Regions from separate parts of the Homo sapiens genome. Here region 2 is linked to region 1. A link means that fine-mapping ties the variant in region 1 to the expression of a gene that starts in the linked region. Tissue or cell type: pancreas. Region 1 holds a variant in brackets; the other region holds the start of a gene. All regions are shown on one strand. Distances are between the middles of the regions. Region 1 overlaps PPIC-AS1 (PPIC antisense RNA 1). Region 2 holds the start of PRDM6 (PR/SET domain 6).

What was found. PIP is the estimated chance that this variant, and not a neighbour inherited with it, causes the effect.
Region 2: PRDM6 starts here. The variant in region 1 is fine-mapped to the expression of PRDM6 in pancreas (GTEx, PIP 0.94).

The regions. Positions count from the first base shown.
Region 1 is chr5:123,037,137-123,041,136 of GRCh38, reverse strand. The region is part of intron 1 of PPIC-AS1 (PPIC antisense RNA 1); the gene reads right to left. Among named protein-coding and RNA genes, the nearest start is that of PPIC, 2.4 kb to the right of the region's middle. The variant G/A (reference allele first, on the strand shown) is at 2,373.
Region 2 is chr5:123,087,204-123,091,203 of GRCh38, reverse strand. It overlaps PRDM6 (PR/SET domain 6), which reads right to left and starts at 1,963. Exons shown (of 8, transcript NM_001136239.4): 1 at 1,685-1,963; 2 at 598-1,204. The coding sequence starts at 1,189. PRDM6-AS1 (PRDM6 antisense RNA 1) reads left to right here and starts at 888. Exons shown (of 2, transcript NR_146771.1): 1 at 888-1,132; 2 at 3,265-4,000. RefSeq lists enhancers at 2,224-2,768, 2,769-3,313.

The sequences.
Region 1 (4,000 bases):
TATAACACATGGGTCAAAAAAGAAATAAAAATATAAGTTAGAAATTATTTTCAAAGAATAATGAAAATATGACATATCAAAACGTTCAAGAAGTGCAAGGGGAACTTTATCATTTTAACTGTATACAGAGTACTATATAAAAAAAGGAAGGGCTTTAAAAATTGATGAGTTAAGAGTCTATCCAAGAAGACAGAAAAATAACAGTAAATTAAACTCAAAGAAAGCAGAGAGAAGGAAATAATAAAGTTAGAACATAAATTAATAAGATAAAATATATTGGATTCATCAGCTTCCTTGGTGAAACTGTTCAAGGAAAACAAGAAAAGAAACAACCAATGTCAGGAATGAAAAAGAAGACATTACTACAGGTCCCGCAGACCTACAAAATCATTAAAAAATGTTTTAAACAACTTTATAAAACAATATTTTAAAATATAAATAAAATGGATATATTCCTTGAAAAATACTTCAAGTAAAGGAACAGAATAGAGAATTTGAATAATCTCCAACTATTTTAAAAGTTAAATATATAATTTAGAATGTTACAATAAAGAAAACTCCAGGCTCAGATGGCTTCTAAGAAACATTCAAGGAAGAAATGGTAATCTTACACAAACCCTTTAAGAGTAGGGGAAAAACAGCTACCATTTGCCAACTCATATTAAGAGGCCAGAACAACTCTAATACAAAAGCTGAGAGGAAACTCCAATAAAGGAAAATTTCAGGCTAGTCTCATTCAAGAATTTAGATGCAAATATCCTGAAAATAAGATTAGCAGATTTACCCACTAACACTGAAATGACATGTGGGTGACGAACTCAGTCTCAGCTGGACAGCCAGAGCCACATTTTACCCACTCTTTTCTTCCTGAACTTCAGAAGATAGTCTATATTCAGTTTTTGGCAACTTTGTTAATAAACTGATATTGCCAAACCACATCTAGTAATATATAAAAAGGATAATCCATGTTGGACACATTCCAGAATGTAAGCTTGGGTTAAGATTTGAAAATCAATGCAATTCATCACATTAACAGAGTAAGAGAATCACATAATTATTTCAATTGATTTCAATAGATGATGTTAATAAAATTTAAATCAAATATATGCTAAAAACTCTTAGCAAACAAGGACTAGAAAGGAATTTTCTGAATCTGAAAAAAGATATCCCCCAAAAGGACCTTCAGCAAATATCATGCCTAATGGTGAAACACTGAAGCTTTCCCTCTGACACTGGGACCAAGACAAGGTGTATGAGCCCCCTAGGGCTGCTGTAACAAAGTGCCACAAACTGGGTGACTTCAAACAAGAGAAATGCATTGTCTCACAGTTCTGGAAACTAGCAGCTGAGATCAAGGTGTTGGCAAGGCCATGCTGTCTTTGAAGGCTCTAGGGGCAAATCCTTCCTTGCCTCTTCCTAGCTTCTGGGGGTTGCCAGCAATCTTTGGCATCCCTTGTCTTGTAGATACAGCACTCCAATCTCTGCCTCCATCCTCATATGGTGTTCTCTGTGCGTGTGTCTGTGTCTGTTCCCTTTTTATGAGGACACAAGTCATATTAGAGTAGGGCAAACCCTACTCCAGTATGATTTCATCTTAACTTGATTACGTCTGCAAAGGCAGTCCAAATAAGGTCACATTCACAGATACCAAGGTTTAGGACTTCAATATATCTTTTTGGAGGATAATTCAGTCTACAATACAAGGACTCCCACTGTTGCCACTTCCTTTTGTACTGCAGATCCCAGCCAGTGTAAAAAGGCCAAAAAAGAAATACAAAATGTAAAGATTAGAAAAGAAGAAATAAAACTGTCATTATTCATGGATGACATAATTGTCTATGGAGAAAATCCTAAACAATTCACAGATAAATTATTAGAATATGTTTAACAAGGTTGGTATATACAAAGTTAATATATAAATTAATTTTACTACAATACATGACAATAGCATAAAAAAACACTTAGAAATCAAACTAATAAAATACGTGTAAGACCTCTGGGCAGAAAGCTATAAAATCTTATTGAGAGAAACCAAAGAAGACTTAAATATGCTATGTTCATGAATTAGAAGACTCAATATTGTAAATTTGCCAAGTCTTAAATGGTCTACAGATGCAGTGCAATCCCCATCAAAATCTCAGTGTGTGGAAACTGACAGGCTGATTCTCAAGTTATATGGACATGGAAAAGCTCAAGAACAGCCAAGAATTTGTTGAACAAAGCTAAGAGGGTATGTATTACTGAATATGAAGAGTTATTATAAAGCTATTTTAATGAAGACAATGTAGTATTGGCACAAAGACAGACAAATAGGCCAATGGGACAGATAGGGTGCCCACAAACACACCTATGCATACATGGGCACTTGCTCT[G/A]TGACAGAAGAACAGTATGGAGCGGTGAGTTAAAGGGGAGAATTTTCAATAAACTGTACTGAAATAAATGAATATTCTTATGAAAAAAATGAATTTGCTTCCTACTTTGTATTAGCCACCAAAATAGTTATATGCAAAAATATAGATGAATTTCACAAAAATTTAAGCAAAAAGAAATACATACGGTAATACCCTATTCAAATAAAATTAAAACAAAATTAAACTATAGTACAAGAAAAGTCAGGATTGCAGTTAATTTGGGCAGAAAAAAGTGTTTGTAACTGGCAGAGGGTATAAGAGGAGTTTCTAGGGAGCTGGGAAAGATTTCATTTCTTTGCCTAGAGGGTGAGATGGTGGTAGCATAAAAAGTAGTTGGACACATTCATTCATTCAACAAATAGTTATTGAGAAATCACTATATATCAGGCATTGCACTAGATCTGGGTCATCAAAGGGGAATAAATATAGGCCTGATCCCTGCCCTGGCCCTGCTTACTTCTGATAGCAGACAGACAAAAACAATTAATGAACACAGATAAATATATACAATCACCTCACAGTCACCTCGTAGGGTAAGTGCTCTGAGAGATACCCTTGTCTTGCTACACAAGGGGGACTCTTTCCTTATTGGGGGTGGGGATGAAGAGGAAAGCCATTAGGTCTTTCACTGGACTGAATCATAAAAATAGCTCAGAATTGCATTTCTCCTTTTTCTCACCCCAAAGAAGTAGTGGTTACTCCTTTTATCTCTAATGGTTCCAATGTCATTTTAGATCTACACTTAGGTACACCTAGGAATCCCATCTGACATTTAGAAATTCCATCTCTTAATCCGAGGAAAATCTTGGCTTGAAAGTAATGGCACCAGCCCCTTAAAATGGCACCTATGTGCGAATACCACTAATTTTTAGTTAATTTTAGGGCTGTTACTCTAAAACAAAAAAGTTCTTTTGAAATTCTAATTCAAAAAGCAATGAGTTTTAAAATAACCCTTTCCATGTTATAAAATACTTATATGCTCATTGTAGAACATCTGGGAAATCAGAAAACTGTAAAAAAAATTTTTTTAAACCCTCAAAAATCCATAAGTCTATCAATAGCTATCAATTCTATCTATAGCTACTGTAAACGTTGTGGTACATCTCTTTCAATATTTAAGTGCCTTGATATATTTATTTTCACGGTTGAGATCAGAATTTGTGGTTTTGCAACCCGAATTTTCCATTTAAAAATATAATAAGAACTTACTTCCCCAGTCATTAATCTTCCTAAACATAATTCTTAAGTTTGTAAAAAATCCATCCTACAGATACACCTAAAAGTCAGTTTATTTACTTTGTTTCCCCAGGAAAGAATCCTACATGACCATGGTTCTGGGCCTGTGTAAGTGCTGCCTTGTGAACAGTGTAGATAAGATCACAGAATCATCCTCCAAATAAAGTACTTAAAGCCAATGTAAAAGTTTTTCGAAGGCAAAGGGGCACTGTGAATCCAGCATTTTCCAGTGTTCCCTAGACGTGAATCATCTCAAAGAGAGGCCATTATTCGAGTGCAACAGGGCTCCACGCCTCCAGCGATGTCAAAGTTCTGCTAAGCGTCCAAAACCTAGCAAAAGGTTCCAATGGGCC
Region 2 (4,000 bases), 50 kb before region 1:
GCCTTCAAGGAGAAACGGACTCAGTTTCATCTAAAATTCCTACTCCAGTGAGGCCTGGCCAGCGAACAGCTCCCGCCGGTTCCCCCACAACCCCGCGGCCCGAAAATGACCCCTCCAGAGGTGGGGTGGAGAGTAGCAAAAACAAGCCCTGGTCTGCGTGCTCCCCAGAGACGCTGAGGGTCCCTCCCTCGTCCCGGCTAAGGCCAGGCAGGGCCTGACCCAGACACCCCCTGTCACACGCTGCCAGTACCCGCCTGGCCCCGGGCACTGTCCGGCGGGAGGGCAGAGGTCTGTTAGGCCGGGTCCACGGTAGACTCCGGCCCCAAACACTTGGGACTGTGAAGCAGGTGAGGAGAGGGAGGGAGAGGGAACCCCAAAGTGCCACCGGCCGTCCCATCCGTTCTCTTTCCTTCTCCAACGCCAGAAAACTTTTGTCACAGAGATCGGGGAGGCGCGGGCCAGCGGCCAGGACCAGGTGCTCCCCACCCACCCGGCCCCGTGTCACTCCTATCCGACCCGCCTCCCTGACAGGCACCCGCGCCCGCCGGCGCCGGCGCCGGCGCCCCGGGAGAGAGCGCGCGGGCTGCGGCTACGTACGGTTGTTGGGGTCGCTGGTGTGCTGGTTGAGCGGGATGATCTCCATGCGCTGCTGGCCATACAGGTAATAGTCCAGCTCCTCTGCGCTGCAGCGGAAGCGCGGGGCGCCGCGACCCTCCCCGCCGCCGCCGCCACCACCACCGCACTTGACGGGCCCGGGGCCGGAGGTGGCGCCGAGGCACAGTTCCTTGGGGGGCAGCGGCTCGGCGGCGACGGCAGCGGCGGCTAGAGGCGCGAACACCGGCAGCTGCGACACCGGCAGGGCCGAGAGACCAGCCAGCGCGGCGGCAGCGGCCGCAGCAGCGCAGGAGGAGGCGGAGGAGGCGGAGGTGGAAGAGGAAGCCGGCGTGGACGAGGCGGAGGAGAGAGAGGCGGGCCGCGGGCGCAGGCTGTCCGGCGGAGGCTCAGCGCGCTCCGGGGGCGGGGGCGGCGGCGGCGGCTGAAGAGGCTGCGGCGCGCTCAGGAGACCCGCGGCGCCGCTGCCCTTGAGCGGGCCTGCGCCTCCGTGAGGGAAGAGTTGCTGCCAGTGCTGCAGGTAGGCTGGGTCCACTTTGAGGAAGGCCGAACCGCCGGGGTCTCCGGGCTTCAGCATGTCCGGCGCCTCGAACTGGGGGCAGAGGGCAGGGAAGAGGGGGCGCGTGAGCTGGGCGAAAGGGGCCGGGAAGAGGGCCACTGGGACCCTGGAGAAAGTGCCCGAGCCGGTGGTTCAGCCGGCGGCCGCCCGGTTCCGCGGCTCCCTCTTCCCAACTCCGCTTGGGCGCAAAGTTTACTCCGAAGCTGCGGCGCCGCACAGAGGGAGCTGTGTGCACCCTGCTCTGCCTCCCCGATCGCAGCGTCCAGCTCCCATCCAGCAATGCTGGGGCCCGACAGGAGGGCGCTGCCCCGTAGAACTCGGCTGCAGGACGCAGCCCCCGCCCTCAGCCAGCGCCCGGAGCCGACCCGAGCCGGCGTGGCGCAGCGCCCGAGCCGCGTTGGCCTCAGGCGCCAGGAGGCAGAACAGTCTCGCCGCCCGCCCCCAACCTAGGACCACCAACCTTCCTATCTACCAAGCCCTAGACTCTTAAGTCCCAGACCAGCCTCACCTTACCTGAAAACTCGGTGCTGCCGGTGGGTGCGTGCGGGTGTCTCGGTGAGCGTGCGGGTGCGCGAGAGTGTGCGCCCTGCGTGCGCTACATGCCCCTGAGCAGCGCGGGAGGAGAGTCCTAGAGATTGTGCCGCCCGGAAACCTCCCGACCTGCAAGCGAGAAAATTGGGAGGCCCGCGGAGGGCGCGAGAGTGCGGACGGACCTGGGCGCCCGACTCAACCGCCGTGGGCTGCTGCGCTTGGCCGCTGCCGCGTCCTGGCTCCTTGGTTCCACGCTCTGGCAGCTTCCCGGCTGGACACGTGGGTTTTACGACAGCACAAAATAGAGTGAGTGTGTGTGTGTGTGTGTGTGTGTGTGTGTGTGTGTGTGTGTGTGTGTGTGTGTGTGTGTGTGTGAGAGAGAGAGAGAGAGAGAGAGAGAGAGAGAGAGAGAGAGAGAGAGAGAACGGAGGGGGGAGGGGAGGCAGGCCAGAAGAAGGGGAGGGGAGAGGGAAGAAGGAAGTTCTAATTCGGCCCGACCCACATCGCCAGAGCGCCTTTCCCGCACAAACTCCTCCGCCCTCCCATCCCCTGTTTTTTTGGCGTGACGTCTGCCGCTAGCCTGTTGTCTCTTTCTGCCCATGATATGTCTTTTCTGGGTCCCAGCTCAGTGCCCTGATCTTGAAAGCAGTGGAAATGCGGCAACGGGAATGCATCTCCGCACACGCTGTGGTGTCCGCGCTGGAGCAAGCCCGCGCCGCCAGGACCGGGTTTGCGCTTTTGCCCGGCTCAGTTTTTCCTGAAGTGCTTCTGGGTGCCAGAGTCCACTCGCCCGCCACGCAACCTCTAACATAAATCCTCCGGGGAGAAAAGTTGGGGGCGGAGCGGGACGGGTTGCGCGCTGCAGTGAAACCCTCTGTCTGCAGCCCAGGAGGGAGGCTTGTCGGTGCAGGGAGGCGTAGGACCGAGGGTCCTGAGACCGAGAGCAGCTGGTCCTGGAGGGACTCAAGCTTGGCCGTGGGGCTGGGAGGCGGCTGCAATGGAGTCTGCACTCCACCCAGCGCTCTGCTGACCCCTTCTCGGGTTGTCTTCTGGAGGGCTCTTTCCCTCTCCTTCTTGGGGCCCGGAGACAAGTATCCAGTGTTACGTCTGGTGGCACAACTGCTCCGGGACACGGGCGAGGCTGTTTGCGGTCAGCTGCCTGCGGCTGCCGCAGGAGGTCACGCATAGGTTTCTCTACCCAAAACCTGGTGTTAGAGGGGCAGGGTGGGAGTGCAGCCCCACCTCCACCATGTCCTCTCCCCAGACTTTGTGCCAGGGCAGCCCTTCGATGCAGTCTCGCACCCACGAAGGAGGCACTTGCCCCCCAGCTCTTCCTGGCATTTTCGGTAGTAGATGGTAGAGGGCACAGGCAGGGTGTGTGAAATTGACCGACTCAGGAGGTACTTTCCCATCGCCGGGGTTCTGGCCATACCGTAAAGAGAAGAAACGGCATTTATCTTTTTCCAAACAACCTAACTTATTTAGCACTTGCCAATCTGAGCAATTAATAGCCATTCTTTCCTGATTTCTGCTTGTTTCTTTTTCTCTTCCCACCACTCAAGTTTTCTGAACCTGGGAAACGTGCTGTTCAGACTTCATCCGGGTCTCATTCAGGATGCTTCGATGTTGGTTGGAAGAGAGTTAGACCGAAAATGTTTTGACTGGCGTCGTTATGACAAGGTCATCCGTCATTGTTGGATAGATTGATAGCACCCAAGTTTAAGGCAGACACCACGAGGGAAAGCCCACGGCGCTGTGGTCCCGGAGGCTAACCAGGCAGTGTCCGCAGACCTCCAGCAACTCCATCGGGAGGAGAGGATGAAGTTCCAGGCCCGTTTCAATTAATCTGCTCGCAGAACTGCCGAAGAGTGGCTTGTCGGGCCACGGGAGAAGAAACAAATGCTCTTTCTCACACTCTCCTGGTTCATTGCTGAGAAACCAGGACACTCCTCTGTTCCCTGGGAGAGACAGTGAACTCCAGGGATGGAAGTCCGGACTCCGGCGGCGGTCCCGTCATTTGCCTTCTTGTTTCTGCCCAAACCCAGCTAGTTCCAAGCGCTTGGTCCCCAAGACTGGAAGTCCCCAAGAACCTACCTCTACCTGTCCCAACCCTGCCTCCCCCCTACCCTTTCACCCCCTGCCACCATTAGAAAGTCTCTGGATTTTGAAATGCTAGTTGCAGCAGCTGCTTCCGTGGCCTCATGCCGCCCACACTCTGGGAAGCGGAGGAGGGAGGGTTCCTCTCGTAATAAGATTAGCTGACCTGTTAATGAGAGTTTTGGACGTGCCGGGCGGGGG